Linked DNA regions of Homo sapiens. The protein of the gene in region 1 interacts with the protein of each later gene in a pairwise test. Each region holds a gene or a part of one and is shown in the gene's direction. Other genes may lie near its edges. The genes, in order: MEOX1, CIAO1, APPL1 and PAGE3.

Region 1 (8,168 bases):
AGAAGCCCCTTCTTCAATGGGAGATAGGAACTCTAGCAGCCCTCATGGCTGCTAAATAGAAGGGCCCTTTAAACCGCCAGCCAGTTAGATCCCCATCCCGAAAATTAACTCATCCTGCCCCTGGTAGGAAATGTGCTAAGGATGAGAAGCAACTCTCAGCGACTTGGCTCTGAACCTGGTTGAAGAGCTTTCCCCTTGGTGGCGGCACGCAGCACTGTGGCTCCTTCCTCTCTGCCACTTTCCAGAGAACTGACAGCCAAGGGCATTGGGAAGGGATAGCAAAGCCAAGAGCCTGCTGGGCTCAGGCAGAATCTTCCAGCATTCCGAGTCTCAGCAAAACCCAAATGCACCAGCTCTCTTTTTGGCGAGTGGCCGATGGCCCTGCAATGCAGAGAGACCATTCACACTAAGCAGCTGGCCACCCAGGAGTACAGGGACACCCTCGGCTGAACGGCCTGCATGCTTCAGGGTCAGACTTTGGTGGAGGGAGGTTCCCATCCGCAGGGGCCCTGGGCTTCCCTAAGGGTCCCCTCAGGAGCACCAGCAGCAGATGAGGCAGGGCCCAGTGAGCTGACTCTCACTCATCCCCCTGTGATTCCAGACAAACTCACTGTTCAGCATGGAAATCTTTATTGCCGCAATGCTTGCATCCTCCTTTGGAATTTAACTGAAGGGGAGGAAGGAGGCAAGAAAGATCAGCTTTGTAAGAGCCCAAAGAAGGGGGAAAGTGACGCAAGGCTCATGACCTACTCCAGGAATCTGGAATTCAGCTCAGAAAAGGCAAACCCACAGAGAGCCCCCCACCCAACCCTGCCAATCCTGAGTCTATAATTGGATCCCCTCTCCAAAATTGTGATATTTTGTTCATTATCAATTTTTTGCATTACTTTTGATTTTTACAAATATTGCCTTAAAATATTCTTTTTTTTTTTTTTTTGAGATGGAGTCTCACTCTAACGCCCATGCTGGAGTGCAGTGGCATAGTTTCAATTCACTGCAACCTCTGCCCCTTGGGTTCAAGCAATTCTCCTGTCTCAGCCTCCTGAGTAGCTGGGATTATAGGCGCACGCCCCCTCTCCCGGCTAATTTTTGTATTTTTAGTAGAGTCGGGGTTTTACCATGTTGGTCAGGATGGTCTCAAACTCCTGACCTCGTGATCAGCCCACCTCGGCCTCCCAAAGTGCTGGCATGCGCCACCGTGCCCGGCCTTCCTTAAAATATTATTGATCTTGACTACAGAGGGGTTGGGCATGCCCTTGCATTTGGGCCTCCCCAAGTCCAGGCTGAGTGGTCCCTGGAAGGTTAACCAGCATTGATCAGAAACGCGTTTTCCATAGTTCTTCCCAGCCAGACAGACAGGCTGCAGTGTCAGCACGGCAACTTTTGGCTGCATGACTTTGGAAAAGTTCATAACTTCTTCCAGCCTTTGTTTCCCTGGCTGTAAAATGGGCATATAGCAGTAGCCCCTTCCATAGAGAGTCTCTCTGTGAAGGTTAGATGCAGTGATCCATGAGATTAACTCTGTGCCTGGCACATAGTAAGAGTTCAATAAATAGCAGCTGTAAATGGTATTAGGCCCATATTTCCTGAACCAGCCTTCAGAATATAAGGTCTGACAAATATTTCTATATTTATGGGGATGGTGGAATTGAATATTTCAATTATGCTGTCTCAGAAATTCCTGAGTCTAGAGAACTTCTGGCAATCATTTTGTTCCAGTTGTCATCAGGAGCATGGAGCTCAGAGACCTGCCGGAGAGGTTATGGGGTGAGTTGGGCCTGGCAAATGCACCCCATATTGAGTGGCTGAGAAGCCTCCAGAAATGGAAAGTTTATTGTAAGAGGAATGTTCTCTGCGCTTCCTTCCTCCTTTGCCATCTCCTTCAACTGCTCCCCGCTCACTCCCAGTAGAATCTGGAGCTGATCTACTCAAAGAAATTATCAAGAAAGCAAGGGTTGGCCGGGCGCGGTGGCTCATGCCTATAATCCCAGCACTTTGGGAGGCTGAGCCAGGCGGATCACCTGAGGCCAGGAGTTCAAGACTGACCTGGCCAACATGGTGAAACCCTATCTCTACTAAAAATACAAAAAAAAAAAAAAAAAATTAGCCAGGTGTGGTGGCAGGCACCTGTAAATCCCAGCTACTTGGGAAGCTGAGGCAGGAGAATAGCTTGAACTTGGGAGGTGGAGATTGCAGTGAGCAGAGATCACGCCACTGCACTTCATTCAGCCTGGGTGACAGAGCGGGACTACATCAAAAAAAAAAAAAAAAAAGAAAGAAAGAAAGAAAGAGAGAGAGAAAGGAAGAAAGGAAGGAAGGAAGGAGACAGAGAGAAAAAGAGAGAAAGAAAAAGAAAGAAAGAAAAGAAAGAAAGAAGGAAGGAAGGAAAGAAAGAAAGAAAGAAAGAAAGAAAGAAAGAAAGAAAGAAAGAGAAAGAAAGAAAGAAAAAGAAAGAAAGAAAATGAACAAACGGGGAGAAAGAAAGAAAGCAGGGTTCCTGGCCTTTGGCACTTCCCCACCCTGGAGACCAGCATGGTGTTATCTTACCCAAACCACTCCCAGCCCCAGGCCAATGGGGATTAAAGACCCCTGCTGGCAGGGACAGCTGTGAGGCCACTGTTGTTTTCCCCCAAACTGTCCTTGCTACTGTGGTTGTCTTTAATTTATGGGAATGAAGGATTTTGCGGTGGTTTCCTCATGGGGTTCAAGGGAAGGTTGCGTGTGATTAGAGTGGCTACAGGTGAATCCGATCGCCCGCCTGGGAAAGCCATGGTGCTAGAACTCAGCACTGCTCCCTCCTGCTCTCACGTCCTCACTCTGCTGAGACATGCCTTTAATCAGACGTGATTTGTCTCATCCTTCTTCAGCTCCAACACGTGTGTTCCCAGAGCTGTCCTGCCCCAATTTCTCTTTGCAAGACCTGCTCTATGCCTGCCTCCGCCCAACCACAAATTTGCCTAAGGTATAAAACTCCACAAATAGGCCTCTCTCCTCTTTTCCCTCCTGATGCCCCTTTACAGGCCACCTCCCCGCCCCAGGTCCCCTCCACTACCCCTGCCACGAAGCCACACCCAGGGACTGACCTTGCAAACACATCCTGCATTTTCTTCCCCCTCTCTGACTGTGCTCTGGTGGTTTCTCCTTGCCTAGAGCACTCTCCCCTTCCCCGTACTTCTGCCTGTTGAAGTCCTACTTAAAAACCACCCAGCTCAAAAACAACCCCTTCCAAGAATATTTTTGTTCTTCTTTTTCAAAAATTTATAGCTACATTTGCATATAACATAGTATCAAAGAAAGCTACAGTTAAGAAATGTCGAAGTCTAGTATCTGCTAGAATCTGTGTTGATTTTCTCACTTTAGCTTGCAGTTGTTTCATAAAGGAACTCTTCTGAGGTTTCTTACCTGGGACATCTTATATTTGAAATCTCCTTTTTTAAAAATTGGGGTCAAATACACATAACATAAAAGTTACCGTCTTAACAGTTTTTAAGTGATACAGTACAGTAGTTGTGCAATCGATTTCTAGAACTTTTAATCTTGCAAAACCGAAACTCTATCTCCATTAAACAACGACCTTTTTTCCCTTCCCCCACCCCCTAGCAATCACCATTCTTTCTCTTGCTAAACATTTGACTATTTTAGATACCTTACATAAGTGAAATCATGCAATGTTTGTCATTTTTGTGACTGGCTTATGTCACTTGGCATAATGTCCTCAAGTTTCAACCAGGTTGTAGCAAGTGACAGGATTTTCTTCTTTTTTTTTTTTTTTTTTTTTTTTTTAGAAAGACAGGGTCTTGCTATGCTGCCGAGGCAGGTGTTGAACTCAGGGCTTCTAGCAGTCCTCCCACCTTGGCCTCCCAAAGTGCTGGAATTATAGGTGTGAGCCACCATGCCTGGCCTCCTTCTTTCTGAAGACAATAACATTCCATTGTATGGATATACCAAATTTCTTTCTTCTTTTTTTTTTTTTTGAGACGGAGTCTCACTCTGTTGCCAGGCTGGAGTGCAGTGGCGCGATCTCGGCTCACTGCAACCTCCGCCTCCCGTATTCAAGTGATTCTCCTGCCTCAGCCTCCCAAGTAGCTGGGACTACAGGCACACGCCACCACGCCCAGCTAATTTTTGTATTTTTAATAGAGACGGGGTTTCACCATGTTGGCCAGGATAGTCTCAATTTCTTGACCTTGTGATCTGCCTGCCTCAGCCTCCCAAAGTGCTGGGACTACAGGCGTGAGCCACTGTGCCCGGCCACCAAATTTCTTTATCCATTCATCTGTTGATGAACATGTAGGTTGCTTCCACCTCTTGGCAGTTGTGAATAATGCTGCAATGAACATGAGTGTGCAAATACCTCCTGGAGAGTGTATTTTCTTTTTCTTTTTCTTTTTTGAGACGGAGTCTCACTCTGTCACCCAGGCTAGAGTGCAGTGGCGCGATCTCAGCTCACTGCAAGCTCCGCCTCCCGGGTTCATGCCATTCTCCTACCTCAGCCTCCCGAGTAGCTGGGACTACAGGCGCCCACCACCACGTCTGGCTAATTTTTTGTATTTTTAGTAGAGACGGGGTTTCACTGTGTTAGCCAGGATGGTCTCAATCTCCTGACCTCGTGATCCACTGGCCTCAGCCTCCCAAAGCACTGGGATTACAGGTGTGAGTCACTGCACCCGGCTGGAGAGTGTATTTTCAATTCTTTTGAGTGTATACCTAGAAGGGAAATTGCTATATTATGTAGTAATTATATTTTTAATTTTCCAAAAAAATTATTTATTATTAGAATAAAATATAGAGACAGGGGTCTCGCTATGTTGGCCAGATTGGTCTTGAACTCTTGGCCTCAAACAATCCTCCTGCCTCGGCCTTCCAAAGTGCTAGGATTACAGGTGTGAACCACTACACCTGACCATATTTTTAATTTTTCCTTTTTCTTTTTTTTTGAGACAAGAGTCTTGCTGTTGCTCTGGCTAGAGCACAATGGCGTGATCACGGCTCACTGCAATCTCTGCCTCCCAGGTTCAAGTGATTCTCTTGCCTCAGTCTCCCAAGTAGCTGGGATTACAGGCGTGTGCCACCACACCTGGCTAATTTTTGCATTTTTAGTAGACAGGGGTTTTACCATGTTGGCCAGGCTGGTCTCGAACTCCTGACCTCAGGTGATCCGCCCGCCTTGGCCTCCCAAAGTGCTGGGATTACAGGCATGAGCCCCTAATCTCCCCTTCTTATAAGCATATCAGGCAGATTGGATTGGGACCCACCCTAACAGCCTCATTTTAACTTAATCCCTTCTTTAAAGGCCCTATGTCCAAATACAGACACACTCTAAGGTACTGGGGTTAGGGCTTCAACATAGGAATTGGGGAGGGAAGCACAATTCTGCCCTTATAGGGACTGTACAGGACTGTACGGGGACAGGAACAAGGGACAAGGTTCAAACTGTGGCACAGACCCTTCAGTTGAAAACCCCTTTAGTGAAAGCAGCACCCAGATGTGTGCCTGACCCCAGAGCTTTCCTAGCTCAGGGTCCTGTCGGCTGGTAGAGCTTTTCCACTGAGACAGGAAGTTGTTTCTAGCCACAAGCAGATCCCTGATTTCCTATCTTACACCAACAAGTACAGACATAAAAAGTGGAGGCAGTTGGCCGGGTGCGGTGGCTCACGCCTGTAATCCCAGCACTTTGGGAGGCCGAGGTGGGCGGATCATGAGCTCAAGAAATCAAAACCATCCTGGCCAAAATGGTGAAATCCCATTTCTACTAAAAATACAAAAATTAGCTGGGCGTGGTGGCATGCGCCTACAGTCCCAGCTACTCAGGAGGCTGAGGCAGGAGAATCGCTTGAACCTGGGAAGTGGAGGTTGCAGTGAGCTGGATCACACCATTGCACTCCAGCCTGGGTGACAGAGCCAGACTCTGTCTCAAAAAAAAAAAAAAAAAGTGGAGGCAGTTTTAGGAGTGAATCTCTAAAGAAGGGAGCTGTTTGACAGAGGAAAGGAGAAAAGAGGCATGGGCTGGATGCGGTGGCTCACGCCTGTAATCCCAGCTATTTGGGAGGCCAAGGTGGGTGGATCACTTGAGGTCAGGAGTTTGAGACCAGCCTGACCAACATGATGAAACCCTGTCTCTACTAAAAATACAAAAATTAGCTGGGCGTGTTGGCTCACACCTGTAGTCCCAGCTAATCAGGAGGCTGAGGCAGGAAAATCGCTTGAACCAGGGAGGTAGAGGTTGCTGTGAGCCAAGATCGTGCCACTGCACTCCAGCTGGGGAGACAGAGTGAGATTCCGTCTCAAAAAAAAAAAAAAAAGGCAATGGTAGGCTGGGCACGGTGGCTCACACCTGTAATCCCAGCACTTTGGGAGGCTGAGGCTGGTGAATCACGATGTCAGAAGATCGAGACCATCCTGGCTAACACGGTGAAATGCCATCTCTACTAAAAATATAAAAAAATTAGCCAAGCGTGGTGGCAGGCGCCAGTAGTCCCAGCTACTTGGGAGGCTGAGGCAGGAAAATGGCGTGAACCTGGGAGGCACAGCTTGCAGTGAGCCGAGATCACACCACTGCACTCCAGCCTGGGCGACAGAGTGAGACTCCGTCTCAAAAAAAAAAAAAAAAAAAAAAAAGCAATAGTAGAGATGAGAATGAAATAAATGGACAACCCCAATAAGTGTCACCTGGGTCGCCAGAGTGATGCCAAGTCCCATACAAGTGACCTCATGCCCATGCTCACCTTCTTGCTGGGCCACGGTACAGTAATAGGAGGAAGGGTGGTCAGAGACTAAGGTCAAGCGAATTAACAAGGTAGCCCTGGTTCAGGTCCCTGATCCACAACTTCCTGGCTGTGTGGACGTGGGTGAGTCCTAACCCTCCCTGAGTCTCTTCTGAGAAATGAGGGTAACAGTACCTACTTCATAAGGTGGGTAGCTGTGAGACTAAATGATATCAGAGATGTAGAGTCCACAGCCAACACTTGGTAACCCCTGGCTCCAGTTTTCCCAAACCCACATATGAGCACCCCTCTCTCTTTAAAGTCCTCCCCTGATGCTGGCTGGCTGCATCAGGTTTCCCACGTTCAAAAACAGGCCAAAGTGTCCTGAGCTCTGCTGAAGTCTTTGCCCCCTGCTGTCAGCCGGGCCTGCCTGACTCTGACGATGCTACTGGCTTAGGGTTGTGGCAGTGCTGGGTGGGGTGTGGTTTGAGGGGTGCACCGCTGCAGCAGCTCCTCTTGTCCCGAGTCCATGTCCAGAACCCCTAGTGAGGAAGAAGTTTTATGGTCCAGAGTGGCCAGCGTGGGAGGGGAGACAGCAACTCCACACTCAGCCAGTATCCCTCTGGGCATCCCCGGCCTCCTGATTAGAGCTCCTGACCTCCTCTTCTGACAAGCAAAGAAAGCTCAGAGCCCAAAGCAGGACCCAGGCCTCGGCCACCATCTGAACTCAGAGGCTCCAGCACAAATCCCACGCCTGGGCCTGCTCAGGCCCCTGATCAGGTATAGTCGGAAACTCTGGAGAAAGTCCGTTTCTGCTGAGGCAGCAGGATCCTGACCAACATCGAAGAGGGAAAGATCCAATGAGCCCGTGAGCTGTAAGAAGGTCAGCCCAGGGGTCACCTCAGCTCTGCTCCGCCACTCTCCCATGCTAGGGACTCAGGATTCCTGCCCGCTCACCTATTTCTCTGGCTTGAATAAATCACGGGCACTTGGGCCCAGGGAGGGGGGATAACTCAGAGGCAGAGAATCCTTTCTGCCTGAGAGACAGGACTCACAGCCCCTGCAGACCTCCAGAGCTGGCCCTTTTCCCCAACTCCCTCTCTGCCCATAACTTGGGCTTCTCACCCAATTTGGCTCCCTGGCCTCTGGCCAGGACCCACCCCCTTCCTTTTCTTTTCTTTTTTTTTCCCCCTTGTTTTTCTTGCATGCAGAGGTACAGGAACAGCGTGAGCAGTGGGCCTGGGTCTCAAGCCCACACTTCCTTTGGTGACAGCTGAGGGTGACATATGGAACTTATAAACAAAACCCAGAACTACCCATGCCTCTCCCCATCCCCTCTTGAAAGCTGCTGCGCTTCCCCCTCACCAACCCACCCCGCCTGGGACTCTCAGCAAAGACTATAGCACCAGACTTTTTTTTCTGAGACGGAGTCTCACTCTGTCGCCCAGGCTGGAGTGCAGTGGC
Region 2 (6,617 bases), on another chromosome or scaffold:
GTTGGGTCGGCTGGTGGGTGGCCTTCACAGGCACGCAAAGTAGTTACATACAGTCTGCAACAGAACAGGGATGTTTCCTCGGAATTCTGCTTGAGAAACGCCAGTCTGGCTATAGTGTGTAAGGCAGATAAGCAGGGATGGGGACACGAACGGAGACACAGACTCATAATCAGTTGAAGATGAGGGTGAGGGAAGGTAAGTTAGGTTCTCCTTTGAGGTGCCCAGGACATAGGAACGTTTAAGGGCAAGAGAAGTCTGTCTTGCAGGGGTGGCATGCAGCGGCTCTGACCCCAGTTGGAAATGTATCTGTACTTTGTCCGGCTTCCACTCAAGGACCATTTATGACATTGCTTGGTAAGACTCCATCCCCCCACCCCATCCCATCCCCATAAATCAGGGATTTTAGAGAAGGCATACCCTATGCAGTCCTCTGCAACCCTGGGGGAGTGCTTGGGAATTGAGGGCAGCCACCCCCATTCCTTATCAGGCCTGACTCTACCATGCTGGTTTACAGCTGGCTGGGCTGGCATTCACAGGAGCAGAGAACAGTCCCAGGCTGTGAGGGTAGCACCAGCGCTAGAGGTTCGCACAGCTCGTGCTGTCCAGAAGTTATTATTGAATCTGCATTCGTGGCTGAGGGTTTTTTTTTGTTTTTTTGTTTTTTGAGACAGAGTCTCACTCTGCAGCCCAGGCTGGAGTGCGGTGGCGTGATCTCATCTCACTGCAAGCTCCGTCTCCCGGGTTCACACCATTCTCCTGCCTCAGCCTCCCAAGTAGCTGGGATTACAGGCGCCCGCCACCATGCCTGGCTAATTTTTTATTTTTAGTAGAGACGGGGTTTCACCGCGTTAGCCAGGATGGTCTCGATCTCCTGACCTCATGATCCGCCCACCTTGGCCTCCCAAAGTGCTGGGATTACAGGCATGAGCCACCGCACCTGGCAGTGGCTGGGGTTTTTATAGGTAACACTGACTCTGGCCTTGTGGAAGCTGGAAAAGCTGCACCATTCATATAGGAGAGTAGGTTAGAGGGTAGTTCTGGCCCTGAGAATTGATCCCTAGGAAATCCAAAACAGTGAAAAAAACTGAGCACTTAAGCTTGCTTTATATTAGCAAACATTTGGGAATCACCTATTCAACAAAAGTGAACTTAAGTAAATTATGGTAGAACTCAGCTTGTTGTATCACTGTTTAAAGAAAGGGGTTAAGAATACTTTATGATGGGGCCAGGCGCTGTGGCTCACGCCTGTAATCCCAACACTTTGGGAGGCCAAGGTGAGTGAATCATGAGGTCAGGAGTTCAAGACCAGCCTGACCAACATGGTGAAACCCCGTCTCTACTAAAAATACAAAAATTAGCTGGGCGTGTTGGCACGCACCCAATCCCAGCTACTCAGAGGCTGAGGCAGGAGAATCGCTTGAACCCGGGAGGCGGAGGTTGCAGTGAGCCGAGATTGCGCCACTGCACTCCAGCCTGGTGATGGAGCAAGACTCCATCTAAAGAAAAAAAAAAAAAACTTTATGATGGCTGGGCCCAGTGGCTCATGGCCTGTAATCCCAGCACTTTGGGAGGCTGAGGCAGGTGGATCACTTGAGGTCTGGAGTTTGAGACCAGCCTGTCCAATGTGATAAAACCCTGTCTCTACTGAAAATACAAAAATTAGCCGGGCATGGTGGCACATGCCTGTAGTCCCAGCTACTCAGGAGGCTGAGGCAGGAGAATCGCTTGAACCTGGGAGGGGGAGGTTGCAGTCAGCCAAGATTGTGCCACTGCACTCCAGCCTGGGCGACACAGCAAGACTCCATCTCAAAAAAAAAAAAAAAAAAACAACTTTATGACATGGGAAACTGCTTATGCCAAGTGAGGAAAGTGCAGTTCATAATTGCATGTCGTTTTTTAGGATAATCATAGTAGGGGAAAGAACTAGATTGCAGCATCTGAAGATATAAGTGGGTGATATTTGTGACTCCTTATTAGTTAAGGAAACATTTTAATAAGAGGTTTTTAGCTGAGGCCTGAAGTTAGGGAAGAGAACAGGCCAGGAACTATGGAACAGGTCTCTCTGGCCTAATTAGTCAGGTATACCCACTGATGTCACTTTCCTTCCAGGTGTCAGCTGACAGGGGCTCTGGCCACAGCTTGTGGGGATGACGCGATCCGCGTGTTTCAGGAGGATCCCAACTCGGATCCACAGCAGCCCACCTTCTCCCTGACAGCCCACTTGCATCAGGCCCATTCCCAGGATGTCAACTGTGTGGCCTGGAACCCCAAGGAGCCAGGGCTACTGGCCTCCTGCAGTGATGATGGGGAGGTGGCCTTCTGGAAGTATCAGCGGCCTGAAGGCCTCTGAGCTACCTCGACTTTGGACAGAGTAATGACTCCCCAGAAAACGTCATATAAGACTTTACCAGCCCCTGAGAGGACCAGGAGGAGCATCCTTGACCTTCATTTAACTTGGCTCACTTCTCTTCAGACTTGGGTAGAAGTGCAGAGCCACAGAATTGCTTTCCTTCCCCGCCTTTGACATGAGGCCTTCAGTAAAGAGCTACAGAACATGAGTACATTGTTATACCACAGATTTTTCTTGCATTAGGGCACAGTGTTAAATTTTTTGGAGGTAAATATACTATTTATAATCACTATATATAGTAGGAGGGGGTATGTGTCTCAGGCTTTTCTGAAGTTGCAAGACTTAAAGAAATAATCCATCTGCATCCCAAGTCCTATTTTATAAGGATATTCATAAAAATTCCATGGTGAATCCTTGTCTGAAATAGGTCCTCCCTTCCCAGTTTCTGTGTAAGTCTTTGCATTTAAGACATCCAATCAATAATGAAGGAAATTTTTTTCTGAATGTAGGTTTGAGTGAGGGGCACCTCTGCTTTCCCTTAGCAACCCTCATATACCTCCCTGCACCGTTACGCTGTGATGGCAACTGGGGATAGAAAAAAAATGGGGAAAGACAGGAATCCTAAAAGGGAGAGTTATTACTGGCCACAAGCCCTGTATTCTCAACAGGGATGCAAATTGGTTCTTCAGTAAGGATAAAAAAAAATCACAAGCAGTTGTTTGTGGCCCTCCTAAGGCCCACAGCACATATAGTGTGTCTGTGATATTCCATTTTCATGGCAGGGAGTGATCAGGAAGAAGGCTTCCTAGGGGACTGGCGATTTAAACCAGTTGAGAAACACTGCCATCAGCAGGCAGTTTCAGACTCACTCAAGTTGTCTCTTGACAGTCACTTCTAAATGGGTTCTAATGTGACAATGGCCTCCAAAACTACAGCCTTCCCTGAAGTTTAAGCTGTGACCTTAGATTTTAGAAGGACAGTGGGGCTGTACCTAGAATAGTGGTTCTCGAAGAATGCGGCCTGCAGATCCTGGGAGTCCCAAGACCCTTTCAGGGAGGATCTGTGAGGTCAACTGTTGGCACTGTGGCATGAATCAAGGTGGTGGCAGCAAACTTCTAGTAGTTTTGATATGTCCTTGATAGAACAAATAGCAATGGTTAACTATTAAATGTTGACCTAGCCAGCGCAGTGGCTCATGCCTGTAATCCCAGCACTTTGGGAGGCTGAGGCGGGCGGATCACCTGAGGTCGGGAGTTCGAGGCCAGCCTGACCAACATGGAGAAACCCCGTCTCTTCTAAAAATACAAAATTAGCTGGGCATGGTGGTGCATGCCTGTAATTCCAGCTACTCGGGAGGCTGAGGCAAGAGAATCGCTTGAATCCGGTAGGTGGAGGTTGCAGTGAGCCGAGATCATACCATTGCACTCCAGCCCAGGCAACAAGAGTGAAACCCTGTCTCAAAAAGAAAAAAAAAGTTGACCTTGAGAATTTATAATATTCTGAGAAAACTGGAAGCATGCATAAAGCCCCTCTGCTGTGCACTGAAGTATGGGTGCCTTGAGGAAAAGCAGTTACACAGTTGAGTTGCAAGCTGAATTGGCTGTGTTCAAGGCATGCCCTTTAGAATTGAAAGAACTAGCAGATTACGGTATTTAGACTTGAATATTTGGCTGATATTTTCTGGAAATTAATGGAATGAGCCTCTCACCTCAAGGGAAACAACTGATAGTGTTGCCAGTGATAAAGCTTTCAAGCAAAAATTGGAATTTCCGAAAATCTGTACTCCACCATGAGCTTTATTGTTGGGGATATTAACAAATGTGATTTGTATAATGAAATGCATTTCATTTGGAAGAATTCAATGAACCATTTTTCCAAGTGACCAGTACGTGATGTTACAAAATCATGCATGGCTCAAAGATTGATTCAAAAGTGTAAGACAGGCCAGTGGATTTTAATGTATTAACAATATAAGAGTGCATTAAGTTTTCGGAGTCTACATTGCCTTTAAGAAACTATGACTTGTAGTAAGCCGGGCGCGGTGGCTCACGCCTGTAATCCCAACACTTTGGGAGGCCAAGGTGGGTGGATCACAAGGTCAGGAGTTCAAGACCAGCCTGGCCAATATGGTGAAAGTCCGTCTCTACTAAAATTACAAAAATTAGCCGGGCGTGGTGGCAGATCCCTTGTAGTCCCAGCTACTCGGGAGGCTGAGGCAGGAGAATAGCTTGAACCCGGGAGGTGGAGGTTGCAGTGAGTCGAGATCGTGCCACTGGACTCCAGCCTGGGTGACAGAGCGAGACTCCATTTCAAAAAAAAAAAAAAAAAAAAAAAATCACTTGTAGTCTTGGTGTGGTATCAAAGAATAGCCACAATTAGCTGAAAAGGCTATTTTAAAAACTTTTCCAACTGCGTATCTGTGTGAAGTCAACTTACTTCAACAAAAAAGTTTGGATGTAGAAGCAGCTGTAAGAATTCAACTGTTTATTATAACAAGATACTAAAGAGACTGTAAAATGCCACCCTTCTCCTTGGATTGTTTTGGAAGTTATTCTTCATAAAAAATGTTAACGTGGGCTGGGCATGGTGGCTCATGCCTGTAATCCCAGCACTCTGGGAGGCTGAGGTGGGCGGATCACTTGAGCTCAGGAATTCAAGGTCAGCCTGGGCAACATGGCTAAACTCTGTCTCTATTAAGAAAAAAAATGTTAACATTATGATTTAAAAGTGCATTAACCTTAATCTAGATAATAAAAGCTTTTTGGGGCAACCTCCAGAACTGTGAAAAATAAATTTGTTATTTAAAAAGAAAAAAAAAAAAACAAAAACCTGAGTTTCTTAGTTTTTAGTAGTGTAAAGAGGTCCTAAGACCAAATCATTTGAAAACTGCTACCCTGAGGAAACTGCCCTTCAGAATCATCTTTCAATTTTGTGTGCATTTAATCTAAAGAACAGAAGGTAAGAATTTGAAGACAGTCGGAAGATCTGGATTAGAAAACCTGTTTATTAAGACTGGGTCACATCCAGCTAGTACATTTCAGTGCCCTTTCTGGTGCTGCCTCCCAGGAGCAGACACTGCAAATTTCAGAACCCCCATCTAGAGAAACCCCTAACCTGTGATCTAGCTTCCGAGGCTCAGTGTTGGTTCTTGTGGTAGTGCTGATGTGTGGGTACCACTGAGGCCAGGCCACAGTCGCATGTACCCTCCTCTGGGCTGACTCACGAGGCTACAGGGGACAGCACACCTAATGAGCAGGTCTGTCCTCCAGACATACTCATTAACAAGCACGTTCCTGGCTAAAAAATAACCAGATCTTTTTGGCCGTGCCCTCAGGTTGGAGAAAGAAAACTTTTAATTTGGAATCACTACAAAGACAAATGGTTTCTACAAATTATTTTATTAGAATGTCAGACTCAAAAGAACTACCAGGAACATGCCTGAAAATGCTATATATGATTTATGCTTGACCCATGACACCTGCTGTCACTGGATCCAGAGTGAGCAAGGGAAAGGAAGTGGAGGTAGGCGGGGACAGCACCAGCCCTGGCTGGCCAGACCTGAGGCCCACAGACCTGGTCCCCACAACCAGGATTCCTACAATGTACACATTCCTAATTCAGGCTCAACTCTCCTTTACCCAAAAGTAAATGCCTCAGGACTCAATCTGAATCACTGTCTGTCTCAGCTTCTTTCACATCCACGCTGAATTTGTACTCCTGGTCACATCCCATGTAAGCGTCACTCATGAAGTACAGAGTGTAGTTGTGGGCACCAGTGGCTGGGGCCACAAAGTCCAACTTCACCTAGAAAGAGCAGGCAGAAATCAAGATGAGCATGGACACAGGAAGCATTCTCACCCTTCCCCCATGCCAGAACAAATGCTAGGGCCAGTGGACACACTCACCTTGGCCTTCTGCTGCAAGGTCAGCCTCTTGATGGAGATGAGGCTATTGGACTTGGCATCTCCAATCACCACCCACCAGCCCTCTTCACGTTTCTGCAGTGATCCAAAACCAAGAATTTCAGCATGTAAAACTTGATGACCATAGGCAACCATGAAAATGGTACAGTTACAAAAGAGAGAACAAAAATCAGATAGCTTTCCAAAGTTTCTTCCCGAAATACAATTAGATTTAACATTTTAATACTATCAAAAGTTGTCTCAAACAGACTTAATTTTTTAAGTAGATGAATTCATTTGTTGGTTCTGGCTCATTTCCTTGTGCCAAGGTACCTTCTCCCACTTAGTACCTGCCACTAAGTCCA
Region 3 (8,586 bases), on another chromosome or scaffold:
GAAATTTTGGTTTTGGCCTCAAAAGCCCCCAAATCAAAGTGATAAAACATTAGCAAGAGTAACTAATGTTATTTAAAATAGCATCAGGATTCTCTAAGGTAATGAGCCCAATCTTCTGATTTAAAAAATATTAGTTTTTAAAAAAATATGATAGAGACAAAAAAGCTTCCTTAAATGTATTAAAATATTTTAATATTTAATAGTTGATAATGAAAAAGATAATTTTTACTGAATGCTTATTGCGCTAGGAGCTACTCTAAAAGCTCATTAATCATCTTAACAATACTATTAATGTAAGTTCTCTAGTATTAAGCTCCATTTTTCAGATGGCAGAATGGAGAAACAGAGAAGTTAAATAACCTTACTTAAGTCACAGAGCTACTAAACAGTGGAGCCAGAATTTAAATCACAGCCCAAGCTTATTAGCTCATAACCATGTTCTCATCTACCTCTCCACAGAAGGGCTATGATGCTATTTTGTGTTAAAGTTCTTGGCCTGCTCAGACAAATTAATTAATGTGTTCTTCTAAAAAGGAATCAAGGCAACCATAGATAAACAAAAGCATATACAATTTTCCTAGAAGTTTTTTTTTTTCTTTTTACCATCAAGAAAGTTGAAGCTGCAGAATTGTCCCACATTCTAAGGATGCTGTGGCAATGAGTAAAAGTGACATCAAGGTCAAGGTCAAAGGCAGAAGCTAGTTTGCAGTGGCACAATGAAGAACCAACCAGTTGGTCCTTAGTGCCCTCCCACCTCTTTTTGCAACCCATTCCTCAGAACTTTTTGTTTTACCCTCCAATTGTCCAAAGCTTCCCCCTACTCTGCTACTGGCTCTAATGTTTTAAAATAGATTAAATGACTGAAGTTCCCAAATTATCAATTTTCTTGAAATCTGCTCTTTCCTGAATCTGCTTTATCTCAGCTGGTATTAAGAAAATAATGAATTATCTGTTAAAGTTAGTCCTATTAAGGAGTGATTTACTAGGTAACAACCAGAATTTTTTGCATTATACATTACACTCTTTAAAAGGAGTATGAATTTCCCAGAATTTTAGATTGATGGAGTCTTTTAGAGAATATTTGTGAGTAGGTGGTTTCCAGCTCGTTAGCCTGGAAATCATGTCCTCACCATCCTTAGCTGGAATCTAGGATTCCTTTTCTAAATGTTTGCTTGACTCTTTATTTTTTGTTAATTTTTGTTTTAATTTAGACTGAGTCTCGCTTTGTCACCCAGGTTGGAGTGCAGTGGTGTGATTTCGGCTCACTGCAACCTCCGCCTCCCAAGTTCAAGCGATTCTCCTGCCTCAGCCTCCCGAGTAGCTGGGATAATAGGAACCTGCCACCACATCCAGCTAATTTTTGCAGAGACGGGGTTTCACTATGTTGCCCAGCCTGGTCTTGAACTCTTGACCTCAGGTGATCCACCCGCCTCGGCCTCCCGAAGTGCTGGGATTACAGGCATGAGCCACTGCACCAGGCCAATTTTTTAAAATTTTAATTTAATTTAATTTTTTTTTGTAGAGATGGTGTCTCTGTGTTGCCCAGGCTAGTCTCAAACTCCAGAGCTTAAGCAATCCTTCCACCTTGACCTCCCAAAGTGCTAGGATTACAAGCATGAGCTACTGTGCCCACCTGACTCTTTAAAAATTTTTTTTAAATACAAAGTGATTTAGGAAAGGGAAATGATCATTCTCCATCTTGGATAGAGTTTTTCCTCATGTGGTTTGTGGATTACCCACTTCAGACTTAACTGGAGAGATTCCCAGCCCTGACTCTGACCTACTACACCAAAATCTTCCAGCAGGGCTCAGGAATCTGTATGCTAACAACCTTCCCAGATAACTTTTATGTGTGCATTAAGTTTGGAAACCACTGACCTAAAGGGATAATTTTTAAAAGTAAAGCACCAGCATCACTTGGGTTATTGGATTCTTTCCTATTACAGATCACAGACCAGAACTTCAAGGAGTATCATGTAAAAACCTAATTATAAGACCAAATATAATTTTAGGAGACTAATAATTAACAACTCTATTTACAAGACTGTACGTCCTTTTGTTGTAAATTATACGTGTGAAATGTCTCAAGGTATATATGTGAAACATCTCAAAGAAATCTTTAGTGGATGTTGTTTAATCCTGACTTGCTTTCCATAAAATTAACCAGTTGCCCAAAGTTTTTACTCTACTACCCACACGAGTCGCCAGTAACCCCTAAGGCATTCTCTGAACAAGCCTCATTTCCTGTATGAAAGAAAACTGGCTTAAAATGAACTGAGTTTGGTTAACTGCACAAAACGTAGGCTGAATAAACTTAAAGTGGTTATCAAAAAGGACTATGAATTTTGCAGCTTTGGAGATGTTTTAACTTAGGAAATACAACCATATTTTTGGATGAGCAGGGTATACAGTGGCCTAAAGCTAGAGAATCCAAATGGAAGGTTAAAACTGGATTCTAGTACAAATAGGTTAAAACTAGATTTGACTAAACCTACCTCTCCATCCAACTGAATGTGAACCTGTTTTTGTTTGTTTTATTTTTTCATTTTTATTTATTTTTTGTTTTTGAGACAGAGTTTCGCTCTGTCGCCCAGGCTGGAGTGCAGTTTCGGCTCACTGCAACCTCCACCTCCCGGGTTCAAGCGATTCTCCTGCCTCAGCTTCCCAAAGAGCTGGAACTACAGGCGTGTGCCACCATGCCCAGCTAATTTTTGTATTTTTGGTAGAGACGGGGTTTCACCAGTTGGCCAGGATGGTCTCCATCTCTTGACCTCTTGATCCGCCTGCCTCAGCCTCCCAAAGTGCTGGGATTACAGGCGTGAGCCCCACCGCGCCCAGCCTGTTTTATTTTTTAACCAGCTGAGTCCGGCAAGAATTCCTTGCCATTCTGCGATAATGTAATGGCCTCTTGAGAGTCCTTTACAGAAACACAGTTTAGATGTACATAACATACTAAGAAGGAAACCATTTAACTTGACAATACCACACCCAGATAATTCAGATAACTAATCGAATTTTTCATCGGAATTATTTGGTTTGGCCAAGTTAATTAGGTAACAAATACTTTTCTTTTCTTTTCTTTTTTTTTTTTTTTTTGATACGTAGTCTTGCTCTGTCGCCCAGGCCGGAGCGCAGTGGTATGATCTCAGCTCACTGCACCTGGGCCTCCCGGCTTCAACTGAGTCTCCTGCCTCAGCCGCCTGAGTAGCTGGGACTACAGGCACGCCACCACGCCCGGCTAATTTTTGTATTGTTAGTAGAGACTGGGTTTCGCCATGTTGGGCAGGCTGGTCTTGAACTCCTGACCTCAGGTGATCCAGCTGCCACGGCCTCCCAAATTGCTGGGATTACAGGCGTGAGCCACAGCGCCAGGCCTTTTTTTTTTTCTTTCTTATACATTGTTTACACTCCTCACTTACTCCTGATTCTTAACAGTTGCCACAACCTTTCTTCATTTAAAATCTAACTCAGTTCAATCAGGAAGGTCACTTACCTTGAAAGTCTTCCTTCTTTAGAGCTGGGGTGCATGGTGTTCTTGTTGGCAGAGTAGAAATGAGATATCAAGGAAAAAGAAACTGTAACACAACTGGGAACCCTTAACTCATTGTAAGAACTGCCTCCAAATCAACTTCCTCAAAAACTAAAGAACTCTTCGGGAGAGAGAGACTGGCTGATAAACAATCTAAGGGGAAAACTTTTAAAGATTGTAACACTAAAAATAATTCCGTAAAACTACAATGCAAGTCTACTCAACAAAACTTTAAAAATATAATTTTATTTTTCTTTCAAGAGATCATGGGAAAATCTACTATTTTCGTTTAAAATATATAACTTCTATTTGTTACTATATTTGGATTTGAGCTACTACTATTCTGGATTTGTTCCCATGTATCTGTGGAACCAGGCAGCTAATTAATCTTTACTCAGCATCTCTGGTATTTCTTGAATGAAAATGGAATGGATTGGTGGAATTAATGGCTAGATGTTTAGAAGACACTACTTACTTTGTTATTTTCTCTGTATAATGATGAAAGCCTACAACTATACAGAGACATAAACGAGCCAGGGTGACAGGTTGGGAAAGATGAAGAGGGAGGAGGAAAGGATAGGCTTGTAGCCCTCATCCGGTCAAATTCCCAACTTTGAGCTTCACTTTATTGTAAAATTAGAGGCTAAAACTATTTAACGCTTCCAAAACTTTTTGATTCAACAAATGCCAATTAGTTACTAACATAATTAATCAGTGTATCCTGATTTTTAAAAGATATTTTCCTTTGTGATTTAAAAGAAACATGGGAGTTGGAGTTGCAGCGTCAGTCCTGAAGGACTGACCTCGGGAGGCCAGGTAGGAACTGATAAACTGGCAACAAAATCACATGTTTTCAACTGAATATACTGATATTCAAGCGTCCAGAAAAACAATTTCGAGCCTACGTTCACAAGTTTGCCAGAAAGCCCTATTATTGACACAGCTGCGGATCTCAGACATCTGAGTTAGTCAGCACCATTCTGCTGGAGGGGATTAAGACTGGACGCTTCGAGCGGAGTTGGGAATGTTATCATCTGAGGAAACTAAAAGGCGCCAGCAGTAGGACTTTCTCCAAGGTCTCTGACAAAATATGTTGCGGGAAAAGTCAACCCGCCCCAAATTCCCCCGTGTGGCCCTAACTCGAGGCTCTGGCTCCTCGCGCCGGCAAGCTGAGGAAGAGACGGTCCCCTGCGATTTAGATACAAACGCGCGCGTGCAGGGAAGGCCATCCCAGGGCAGACACTGCCACCTCCGCCGCTTCCGACGCCCGCGCTCGCGGGAGAGCCTAGCGCCGCACGGGAACCTCCCGACCACCGCCGCAGCGCGGATGGGCGTCCCCGGGAGCCAATGGACGCGCCGGGAGGCGGGGCAGGGAGGCCGAGGGGGCGGGATTTCCCGCACGGCCGCTCGGCGCCTGGAGAAGGCTGTGCGGGCGGGGACGGCTGCAGCCCTTGCCGGAGAGGGCGGGCCGGGGTCAGCTGCGGCGGGCGGGCCGGCGCGGGGAGCTGTGGGCGGCAGCTGCGTCTCCTGCCACCGCCCTCCCTCCGCCACGATGCCGGGGATCGACAAGCTGCCCATCGAGGAGACGCTGGAGGACAGCCCGCAGGTGAGGCGCGGGAGCTGGTGGGCGACGAGGGAGAGCCCAGCTGGCCGACCCCAGGTCTGGCGCCTCCGCGGCTCCCGCAGGTGCCCGCCCCGGCCCAGGTGGGGGCCGCCGCCGCCCTAGGTCACCGCCCGTCGCAGGCCGCGCCCGGAGTTGTGGAGGCTGGGCCCGCCGCCCAAGGCCCGCGTGGGCCTGCTCGGCTGGGCCGAGGGCCGCAGGCGGAGACCGAGCCGCTGGTGCTCGTGGGCCGGGCGGTCACGTACGCGCGCGGGTCCTTTTTATTTGACGAAAGGCGCCGTTTTTATCGCGGTGATGTGAGGTGCCAAATCTCGATCCTGGAATTTTCTCCCTGAGAACCTCTTCAGAAAAATTGCAGAAGGGAGAGAAACCCCGATAGTCTTATTTAATGATTTCCGAGGCTCAGCAAGCTAAGGAAGGAAATGGATCGTTTTTCTTTGGGAGAGGCTGTAAGGTTGTGTGTGGAGCCCTAATGGCAAAGCCCGTGACGGGTCCCGGAGCCCAAGACCGCTCTCCCCGCCGAATGTGCCCGTGTCGCGGCCGTGACTGTGGTCGCTGTCACTCGAGCTGTGCACGGCGAGGGATGGACGGTGCCTTCGCCGCTCCGCGACTGCTGCGCTGCTCCCTGCAGACTTGGCCTTAATAAACTCATCAAAATAAAAGCCCTGTGTTCTGTGCGTCGGAATGATGCTGATGTGGTTGCTCTAGCTTAAGACAGTTTTGGAAAATGTAACCATTTAATATGTTTTCAGTACTGCAGAATGAAAGCAGCTATATTTTTTAAAATGTTGGCAGGGGCTGTAACTTGCATAGGGAAAACTTCATCTCTAAGCCGTTTTACACGATAATTTAAACGGTTTAAGACGGTGTTGCTGGTTGGACACTATTTAGAATGAAACATTTCTGAATTGTTGCTGATTTAGAAATGCAGTTGCACCATTTCGTGTGTCTTTACAGTTGAACATGGCCCCCAAAGAAGAAAAGCAGAAGAGGTCTAGATCTCCTTTTCCTGGATGGCACTTCTGCCATGGATTTTGTGCCAATGTTAATTGCCAAGTTGAAATGGGGCTCTGATTGTAGAATTGATTTGTTCTTTTTTATTCTGAAAGTTATCTTCACAGGCCAGTTGCCTGCTGCTAATGTACTCTTAACAGCTGATAGTGACAAAAAGAGAAACTCACATTTGGTTTATCTTGACTGCCAGTATACTCGGTTCAATTTTTTTCTTGATGATTTCTCCATATAAAGTTATAAACTGTATTTGTTTCAGATGATTTGCAAAAAGTTTGTGGAATTGGTCAGGTGTACTTTGTCATTTTACTTTTTATTATGTAAGATTCAACAGGTTGCCTTACCTTTCTTCTCTTACTTGGCTTTTTTTTTTAATAGCCCATAAAGACTATAAACGGCTCAGAATGGATTGCACACTGCCCTGGAAATGACTTGTGAGGCAGAGATAAACTCTTGACTCATCTAATGTCTTGAGGTTTTTGCCAGATTAGTTTACAACTTAAGAATTGTGGTTTTTTTTTTTCTTTACAAGCATGCATCATACTAGTGTCCGTTTTACAATATATTTGTTTGTTTTTTGAGATGGGGATCTTGCTATGTTTCCCAGTCTGGAGAGCAATGGCTGTTCACAGACACTATCGTAGTGCACTGTGTCCTGGAACACCTATGCTGAAGTGATCCTCCTGCCTCAGCCTCCCTAGCAGCTGGGAATACAGGCGTGTGCCACTGTGCCAGCTTTTTTTTTTTTTTTTTTTTTTTTTTTTCCTGAGACGGGGTTTTGCTCTTGTTGCCCAGGCTGGAGTGCAATGTTGCAATCTTGGCTCACTGCAACCTCTGCCTCCCGGGTTCAAGTGATTCTCATGCCTCAGCCTCCTGAGTAGCTGGGATTACAGACGTGTGCCACCACGCCCACCTAGTTTTTGTACTTTTTGTAGAGACGGGGTTTTGCCATGTTGGCCAGGCTGGTCTCGAACTCCTGACCTCAGGTGATCTGCCCGCCTTGGCCTCTCAAAGTGCTGGGATTACAGGTGTGAGCCACTGCGCCTGGCCTGTGCCAGCTAATTTTTAATGAAGTAGACACATTGATATCCCTTCAATGTTGAAAGGCAATAAATTTGAACTAGGTAAAATTTACTTGGGAAAATTAATTGGTACAACTGGGATTTAGGAAGTGTACATACTTGGAGGTGATTCTTAGGTCGAACCTGTGGCAGAATGCAAAGCCTTGGATCTAGGGTTGACGAGGTTTTTAGTCATCACTGCCACTTTACTACCTTCTGCTTTAGGGCAAATCATTCAACTTCTCTGAACCTCAGCTGTTGTGTCTTAATGACATGTTTTTATTTTTGACCCTGATTAAAAAGAAATAATAGTTGCTTCCTTCAGAAAAATTGGAAGGTCCAGAAAAGAATAACACACAATTACCTGTTGGTTACCCAGCAAAACCTTATTAACAGTTTGCTTTCTTTATTCTACTGTTTTTTTTTTCTTCTACATGTTTTAATGGAATTGAGATTATATTGTGCATAATGATCTTTATCCTGCTTTTAACTTAACATTATCACTTAAGTATCTTCACATGTTTTTACATTCCAAATAAAAACATTTGAAGACCACACATTTCCTTAACTGATTTCACAACCCTTTGCTGGACTTTTAGAGTTTTCCCAAAGTTTTGCTTTTATAAATAGGGCTGAGATTAATGCTTTGGAGCATAAATTTTCTTCTCAGTTTGAACTATTTTATCTAGAATAGAGTCCAAGAAGCAGAGCAGCAAAGAATATGAAGACTTTTAAAGCTCATGGTAAGTTTTTTGTTTTTTTTTTGAGACAGAGTCTCACTGTCACGTAGGTTGGATTGCAGTGGCACAGCCATAGCTCTGAAACCTCAAACTCCTGGGCACACGCCACCAAGCTCAGCTAATTTTATTTTATTTTATTTTTATTTTTTGGAGATGGAGTTTCGCTCTTGTCGCCTAGGCTAGAGTGCAGTGGCATGATCTTGGCTCACTGCAACCTCCACCTCCCGGGTTCAAGTGATTCTGCTTCCTCAGCCTCCCAAGTAGCCCAACTAATCTAAAAATTTTTTGTAGAAGACTGGGCGTGGTGGCTCATGCCTGTAATCTCAGCACTTTGGGAGGACGAGGCAGGTGAATCACGAGGTCAGGAGTTTGAGACCGACCTGGCCAACATAGTGAAACCCCGTCTCTCCTAAAAATACAAAAAATTAGCCGGGCGTGGTGGTGGACGTCTGTAATCCCAGCTACTCGGGAAGCTGAGGCAGGAGAATCACTTGAACCCGGGAGGCGGGGGTTGCAGTGAGCCGAAATTGTACCGTTGCACTCCAGCCCGGGCAACCGTGCGAGACTCCGTCTCAAAAAAAAAAAAAAAAAAAAAGAAAATTTTTTTTTTGTAAAGACAGGTTT
Region 4 (8,450 bases), on another chromosome or scaffold:
GGGGGTAGGACCCTCCAAGCCATGCACGGGATATAATCTCCTGGTGTGCCATTTGCTAAGACTATTGGAAAAGTGCAGTATTAGGGTGGAAGTGACCCGATTTTCCAGGTGCTGTCTGTCTCCCCTTTCTTTGACTAGGAAAGGGAATTACCTGACCCCTTGTACTTTCCGGGTGAGGCAATGCCTCACCCTGCTTCAGCTCACGCTCAGTGCACTGCACCCACTGTCCTGCACCCACTGTCCGACACTCCCCAGTGAGATGAACCCGGTACCTCAGTTGGAAATGCAGAAATCACCTGTCTTCTGTGTCGCTCACGCTGGGAGCTGTAGACTGGAGCTGTTCCTATTCGGCCATCTTGGTTCCTCCCCGTGGCATTACACTTTCTATTTTGCTTTTAAAATATTTTATTTAAGTGCTTATTTTTGTTTAAGTCAATTAGTTAGAGCTCTTTTATATAAACATTACACACAACACTTATATAGCTACACAGAAAGACAGAAGACGATTACTACAGTAGTTGTAAGGTTTTTCATTTGCCAGTTTTTAAGTTTCTTAATTGGATTACTGGCTTTAGCGTGTAGCCCTTGGAAGAACAGGGCCAGGAAAGGGGTCTCTGGTGCCTCCTGTTTTTCCCAAGGAGTCTTGGCTGTTAGAGCTTGAACATCTGCTTTTAGCACGTTTTGATAAAGTCCTTTTAGTATTTCTTATGCCAAACCGCCAATATTTCTGGTTTTTGAATTTCTCCCAGGTGCTTAGAGAAAGGAAAATTTAAGACAGTCCATGGAGGAGAACATAATTGACAAACTTACACAACATTAAACCAGAAACGACTTACTTCCTAGGTGAGGAATACGAACTCGGACCACCACTGCGAAAGTCCCATACCTTAGCTAGTGAGCTACAGCTCACAGTAGTCTTCAGCTTCTTTCCCAGAAGGAGTCTAGAGCAGTTAATTTTGAGCTTGCAAAGGCTTTTAACTATTCAATATGGTTTTTAGAGCTAACTATGACATGAACCTAAAATTCCTGGTCCCTGAATGTGGAGACCAAACAAAAGTATGGCCACGTGGTTAAAAGGTCAAGCTCCCAAGGACATAAAACAACGTGAATACTTAATCTGGGTTTTTTGTTTGTTTGTTTCAGGGACCCGCAGCCAAGGTAGTTACTGACCAGCTTTCTGGATCATCTTGAAAAACAGGTTTACAGGTGTTCTAAGCCCATGTTTTATCCTGAAGTATCCCTCGACACAGAAAAACGAATTCATAGCACAAAACACACCAGCTTAAGACTAGTCTTAGAATTCTTTTTCACATTAATCAAAACTTTACAGAGGAGATAAACACTAGCTTGTTTCTTTAATTCATTCAACCATTTACACAGAGAAAGAGAAGCCAGAAATCTGACTGGTAAGAAATTCTTACCCTTTTGTCGGCATGCCAGGCTTCTGGGTTCCCTTTCCCTGAGCGGCCCTAGTGATCCGGCTTGTGGCACCATCGCCCTGGGGGCCAAGCTGCATCATAAAGGAAAATTATTTTTTTTCATTCTGGCTGGAGCAAACTACATGTGATAGAACATAGACATTAGCCACTCTGCTTAGCACCCAATATCAAACTGGCAAGGCTTAAATTTGCCCCCAGATGGGCTCCATCATCTTTAATCCAACCTCTGACTTGGAGTTTCAACACGTGGTCTCTGGGCAAGATGGTCACCCTGAATAATAGAAAAGATAAGAAAGGGGGCCGGGTGCAGTGGCTCATGCCAGTAATCCCAGCACTTTGGGAGGCCGAGGTGGGCAGATCACAAGGTCAAGAGATGGAGACCATCCTGGCCAACATGGTGAAAGCCCCGTCTCTACTAAAAAAAAAAAAAAAAAACTTAGCTGGGCATGGTGGCACGCACCTGTAGTCCCAGCTACTAGGGAGGCTGAGGCAGAAGAATCACTTGAACCCGGGAGGCAGAGGTTGCAATGAGCCAAGATCATGCCACTGCACTCCAGCCTAGCGACAGAGTGAGACTCCGTCAAATAAATAAATAAATAATAAGAAAGGGAAAGGGAAAGGAAAAGTAGAGAAGGAAAGTATTGCCTGTGGTAGGGTGGGGAAGGCAAAATGATCAGGGAGGCCAGAGAAAGACCCACCCATTGCAGCGACATTGAAAAGTTCAGGCGGCTACTGTCAGTCAGGCAGGGATCTTTTTCAAGCAGTCCCATCAGCTCTCAAGTTTCCCCTTTTGGAGGAGGAAAAAGCTCCCCATGTCCCTTAATCCTGCACATGCCTAATCCTGTCATCTACAGCCATCAGCAAAGAGTGCAAGGCAGATTAATCCAAAGAGAATAGCAGTTAACATCCTATAGTGCCGAACCTGTTCTTAGCTGAGAGGGACTTTACCAAGAGGGGCCTCTAACTCCCTAAATCTTAGAAGGGACTCTAACCCTCCTAAGTTGGGCCTGTAACCCAAGGTCAGTCAAGTGTCCTTGCCTTTTATTAAGAGGGGCCTCTAATCCACTCTGTCTTAGGAGAGACTATAACTCCCCTAAGTTGGGCCTCTAACCCAATCCCATCCTTTAGCCTGCTCCCCTGCCACTTACCCAAAGTCATCCAATCAGTGCTGCAGTCTATTTCCTTTGGATTGGGGAGGTTTCTTCAGTATTGTCCTTTTTGTGGTTCACGAGAAAGATGTTACCGGACCCCACCACTTACCCAAAGTTAGCCTTTGGGTTGGGGGTTTCCGCAGTATAATCACTTCGGTGGTCACCAGAGAGATGTTACAGGACCCCAACACTTACCCAAAGGTAGCCATTGGGTCAGGGTTTCTTCACTATAGTCCCTTCTGTGGTGGCCAGAAATATGTCCCAGGAAAGGGGACCCGACCCCATGTCCCAAGAGAGGGTTCTTGGATCTCACACAAGAAAGAATTTCAGGGCGAGTCCGCAGTGCAAAGTGAAAGCAAGTTTACTAAGAAAGTAAAGGAATAAAATAATGGCTACACCATAGACAGAGCAGCTGCACTTGTCTGATTAGTGGTTGTACTCATGTATATATGTTTCTGCACTTGTCTGATTCTGCCTAAAAACTTTCTCTTTACTTTAGAAGATCAGTTTATCAATTTCTCCAAAAAGAACACCCTCTGGGATTTTGATTGGAATTGCTTTGAATCTATAGCTCAATTTGGGGAAACTGTATCTTAAGCATATTGACTCTTTTGATTCATGAACAAGATATATCTCTTAATTTTATTTGGGTCTGAAATTTTCACTCAGCCATCTTTTGTACTTTTCAATATGTTATAGGTCTTGAATTTCCTTATTCAGATTCATCCCTTAGCAGTTAATATTCTTCGATACTATAATGCATACTATTAAAAATGCCAATCCAAGTTTGTATTGCTGATGCACAAAAATACAATTAAATTTTGTATATCGATTTTTAATTCTGCAACTCACTTGTTTCTAGTAACTGTTTTATAGATTCTATCAGATTTTCTACACGAAAGATTATGTTATCTATGAGTCATACAGTTTTACTTCTTCCTTTTCAATCTGGATGCCTTTTATTTCATTTCTTGTCTCATTGCACTAACTAGATTCACCAGGACAGTGCTGAAGAGAAGTGAGTAGGGCTGATATCCTGGCCCTTTTCCTTATCTGTGTGTGTGTGTGTGTGTGTGTGTGTGTGTATTATATATATATATAACATTGTGTGAAAAATTGATTCACACAATTATGAAGACTGGGTCCCACAGTCTGCCATTTACAAGCTAGCAGGAGACCAGAAACCAGTGATGTACTTCAATTCAGATCCGAAGGCCTGAGAACTAGGGAAGCAGATGGTGTAAATCCCAGCTTGAGGGCAGGAGATGTGGACTGAACATAAATATATGTGTGTAAACATGTATGTTTGTACGTGTGTGTGTGTAGGCTATGTGTATATCCTAAATGCAGTTCTGATGATTTCTATTTTATTTTATTGTGTTTCTTTAAAATGCTGTTCGTTGCTCATTACATTAAAGATGCAAATTACATTTCATCAACAACTATGTATTTTGTGGTAACCCTAGTGGCCCATATCAAATATGTCCTTTTTGTCTAAAAACAATGCATCTTTAAAGGTTCACATTAAACTTCAGATAACAGTGTTTGTTTTTCAAAAGGCAAGAGTTAGTTAATACAAACTAGACCTCAGGAAAAAGGATCAACAGGTACAGGTGCCCTCTTGTTCACTTGCCATCCTGTGTAAGGCTGTCCTTGGGCTGGGCCTGGGGTGCAGTTAAATGTCATGTATTTATGATCCCTCTTCCCTCTATTTATGAGGGAAGTGTGAGAGTTGTATTGGGCATGATAGTTAATTTGACCTCGAGCCTCAGGGACCCTTACTTTAGATGTCAAAAAGTTTAGGAAGGAAAAGTAAAAGAGCTGTGCAAGCCCCTTTCAATACTCAAGAAACCTTGTGGCTCCTAGTCAACAGAGGCAAGAAAACCTCAGCCTACGTAACACAAGCTGCATCCCTATGCATGTCCGTTGCTGGGCATGTCCATTATTGCGCATGTGCCTTGCTGTCTGCTGTCTGCTGTCTGCTGTCTGCGCTCAGAGCTCTGCCCTGAGAGGTGGTCCTCCTGTCCTCTTCATTCTTTCTCACTGACTGGGACTCAGCTGGTAGGTCCGCAGATCAGTCCTCCTGGGAATTTAGTTGTGAGTGAATGTGAAGGGGAGCCAGCGGGCTTTGGACAGGTCCTGCGGCACAGAAACCACAGTCCGTGGCTTCTGAGAGAAAAGGGCCTCGCCGTCGACGTCCGGCTCCTCCCAGGTCGCGACGCCCCATGGGCCTTTGTCGTCGTTTCTGGGCCAGGACGACGGAGGAAGGTGGACCGTAGAGGGGAGGAATCACGTGAAGATGGGGCGAGTGCTGGGCGTGCTGTTGGAGGTATCTGAGTGCCGAAAGGCCTGGAACCCTGAGAGGGAGGACAGATTCCCCAGTTCTTAACCGGGCAGTGGCAGGGCGAGGTGGGCAGTAAGGAAGGGGCCTGGAAACTAGGAACACTGCGGGCTGATAACCGCTGCCCCGAGGTCTGTAGAGCGCTCCACGGTGGCAGAGAGTGAGGAGCATGCCCTTCACTCGGCTTTGCAACTTCACACCTCCGCCACTGACATCTCGGGCAGGAATGGGAGAGGCTGTGCGTTCCAATAAAACTTGATTTTAGGGGGTAAATGGGCTGAGTAAATGAGAGTGGGGCAAAAGCAGTAGTCACTCCGGTTCCAATTCTCTACCTATATTTTCCTAGATATCTTCATGATGGAGAGTCTAATTGTGAAACCAAAACTCACAGAGAAGTCCTCTATCTTGCCATGAGCCTTGCCTGCTACCATAGCCATAACATTAATGACTTTGCAAGCAGCCATATTTGGCTAAATTAGATGATACCTAAAAATTTTTGAAAACATCTTAAAATTAAGTCCCAGGGTAATCGTGAGCTTGCATGCTTTCCAATTTAGCCATGGAAAAGGTCAAATGATACACTCTTATGTACATTTTCTGAATCACAGTATGCCACTTTCAGAGTGAAACATGAGTGGACATCAAAGAACAAGATCCAGATCTAGAGAAAGAAGAGATGATCAAGACTCTAATCATCCAGTAGGGGCTGTGGTTGTGAGTATTTTAACATTTGATATTTTCTATTAGAAACTTATTTTTGTGAAAATGTTGTTGAACTAATATTGATATATTAATAAGGTTTTCCATGCTTGTAAATGGTAATAATTGAATCTCGTGAAGTAAACATAGATTTGGATGTTTGCATTCTAATGTTGCCTGGATGGCTATGTTTTTATATTCCCCAGAAATATTCTCTATGGCTTCCTTCTCCTGCTTATTCATAACACATTGTATACATCAATTCCAGCCTGGATTCAAATAGCTTCCCAAGTTTTTAAGGGTAACTTTCTCTTGTAGTAACTATTAAGAATAAGTATATGTAGAATTGTGTAGGAAAAAAATGTCTTTAGACTTATTTATGGTAAGATATATTTGTATATTGAGTATATGTATATTATTGACATGCATTATTAATAACAGACCTTTTTATTTGCACACGCACTCATATTCCTAGGCCCAGGAGCTGCCCAGTAATGACCAGCTTCAACAAGAGGAACCACCAATTGAAAGTCAGGATTATACACCTGGTCAAGAGAGAGACGAGGGAGCACTGGACTTCCAAGGTGAAGCGTGGGAGAGGAAGAATGCCTATGAATGGAGGGGGTGTATGTATATATCATGTATTATGATATGGAAGTAAAAGGAGGAAAAAAGCAATAGAAAGAGATCTCAAACATTTCCTGAAAATTGGCTGGAAAAGTGAAGAAGGCATAGTTTACAGCCAAGGGCAGTCCCTTAGTATAATGCATTCGACCTTCAAGACTTACTTGTTATGCTTGCCAGAGCATTTCATTAGCAAATCCAGGGAAACTATGTTTAATTTTACTCCAAATTGTATACTATTTCACTAGTTAAACTTGATCTTAGAATATTGTCTGTCCTTCTTAGTAATTATATTAAAAGTTTAAGCAACTTTTAATAGCATGCGTAGAGTGCTAAGGCATTATACATATATTATAGATCACATATATATATTATATATATGTATATATATCTCATATCCACACTAATTCACACTTTGGATTAAACTAGCTTGCATCGAGATATAAATCTATATATGGTATGTGATATATATATTACATATATATATATATATATATATATATATATCATATGTAACACCTTGGATTAAATGAGCTTGCATAGAAATATAAATCCCACTTGATAAGTAAGAAAACTGAGACTCAGAGATTGTGTCTTACCAAAGGGCACTTCACTGGTGGAGAAATAATTTGTATATTATTCCAAAGTATGTATTCTTCTTACCATCTAGATTGCTGTAAGAAAAAGTGAATGATTTTGCTTAAACTGTTTAATACTAAAATGTCTATACTGTGAGATAGCTCAGTACTGGCATTGGAATAGACCCAATTCAGTGGAACAGAATGTGATTCCAGAGAATGACTCAATGAATGATAGCCACTGTTTACTTTGATTGAAATTTGTGTATGGAAAGTTTAGTTAATAGCTGAACAATTCAGGATATTGGCATATAGGTAGCTGGTTCAGTATAATTTTTAAGTGGTTTTAAAAGGTGGTTAAATCCTCTTATGGCTAGAAACATCAAAAGGTTATGTACCTACGATTATCATGAAACAATTAGTTCTTCCAGGTATGGCATTTTGGAGCAAAATATTTACATAGCTCAAGCCATAGATTATTTTAGCAATTCACTATTGAAAGAGTCCCAGAATTATGATGACAATAATACCCATTAAATTCTTTCCATTCCACTTCCCATTATTCTTGCTGGAAGTCAACGATTTTGCTGTATTCACAAATAATTTTGCTGTTGTTTTTACAACTTCATTATATATGGAATTCATTTATGGAAAGTAACATATAAGACCTTTGGACCTAAAAGTAACTTTATTTTAACAAAATAAGTTTCTTGTTACCCCAATAGGTTATGGGTGTCATGACTATAAGATATGTCATACGCTTACAAATCCATTCAGCTAATTCTTCATAAAATTATATTTTAAATGTAATTTAAATCTTATCCATGGTGTAAAGTTCTGATTTCCTGGATGGCTGATGTTTATTCCCCTTACAGCACTATGGTAAAATATAAGGACGGCACATGTTTTGTGGTTTGTCCTTATAATGTCATTTAAAATGGAGGTTTTTGTAATGCAGGAAAACAAATACATGAAGTCCAATCCATCTACAGCCATACCACCCTGAATGCACCCAGTCTTGTCTGAAGTCCAATCCTAGTTGCTGTTAATGTTGTCAAAAATAACTCTTGTCTTCCTGAACTCCAACATAGTTGTCATTTATTCTTTTTTATTTTTAATTTATGTTTTGTAAAAATATAAAATTTACAGAAAAGTTGCAAGATTATTATAATCAACTCATATGCTTTTCACCTAGATTAACTAATGTTTAGAGTTTTGCCACATTGATTTCATACCCACTATTCTATTATATAGCCATATTCTCTTGGATAACCCCTGTATGTTTATTAAATTTGGGGAATTCAACAATGAAAAATGCAGTTGTTTAATATATAGCTTATATTCAAATTTCCCCAGTTGTCCTAATAATTTCCCTTATAGTTTTTTTTCTGATTCCAGGATCATGCATTACATATAGTTGTCAATCCTATTTAATCTTTTTTAATCTGGACCAGTTCTTCACTCTTTCTTCGTCTTTCATGACACTGGTATTTTTTAAGAGAATGGACCAGTTGTTTTGCAGAGCGTTCATCAGTATAGGCTGTATTTTTAAATACTTTTTTTTCACTCAACACTTATTCACAGTGACTCATGCCATGCAATATGTAGGCTTTAGGGA

The links.
Region 2: the proteins of MEOX1 (region 1) and CIAO1 interact in binary tests that used the Homo sapiens proteins (3 or more experiments, as listed by UniProt).
Region 3: the proteins of MEOX1 (region 1) and APPL1 interact in binary tests that used the Homo sapiens proteins (3 or more experiments, as listed by UniProt).
Region 4: the proteins of MEOX1 (region 1) and PAGE3 interact in binary tests that used the Homo sapiens proteins (3 or more experiments, as listed by UniProt).

The regions. Positions count from the first base shown.
Region 1 is NC_000017.11:43,651,276-43,659,443, reverse strand, and holds part of MEOX1 (homeobox protein MOX-1), read left to right. Parts: intron 1-8,168. UniProt on the Homo sapiens protein: Mesodermal transcription factor that plays a key role in somitogenesis and is specifically required for sclerotome development. Required for maintenance of the sclerotome polarity and formation of the cranio-cervical joints.
Region 2 is NC_000002.12:96,269,002-96,275,618, forward strand, and holds the end of CIAO1 (probable cytosolic iron-sulfur protein assembly protein CIAO1), read left to right. Parts: intron 1-266; coding exon 267-354; intron 355-2,109; coding exon 2,110-2,350; 3' UTR 2,351-5,172; downstream 5,173-6,617. Other genes in the region: SNRNP200 (U5 small nuclear ribonucleoprotein 200 kDa helicase), read right to left, coding at 6,011-6,154, 6,256-6,348. UniProt on the Homo sapiens protein: Key component of the cytosolic iron-sulfur protein assembly (CIA) complex, a multiprotein complex that mediates the incorporation of iron-sulfur cluster into extramitochondrial Fe/S proteins.
Region 3 is NC_000003.12:57,222,803-57,231,388, forward strand, and holds the start of APPL1 (DCC-interacting protein 13-alpha), read left to right. Parts: upstream 1-4,926; 5' UTR 4,927-5,081; coding exon 5,082-5,135; intron 5,136-7,911; exon of another isoform or gene 7,912-7,962; coding exon of another isoform or gene 7,963-7,965; intron 7,966-8,586. UniProt on the Homo sapiens protein: Multifunctional adapter protein that binds to various membrane receptors, nuclear factors and signaling proteins to regulate many processes, such as cell proliferation, immune response, endosomal trafficking and cell metabolism.
Region 4 is NC_000023.11:55,261,015-55,269,464, reverse strand, and holds the start of PAGE3 (P antigen family member 3), read left to right. Parts: upstream 1-4,548; 5' UTR 4,549-4,919; intron 4,920-5,539; exon of another isoform or gene 5,540-5,553; 5' UTR 5,554-5,561; coding exon 5,562-5,645; intron 5,646-6,105; coding exon 6,106-6,214; intron 6,215-8,450.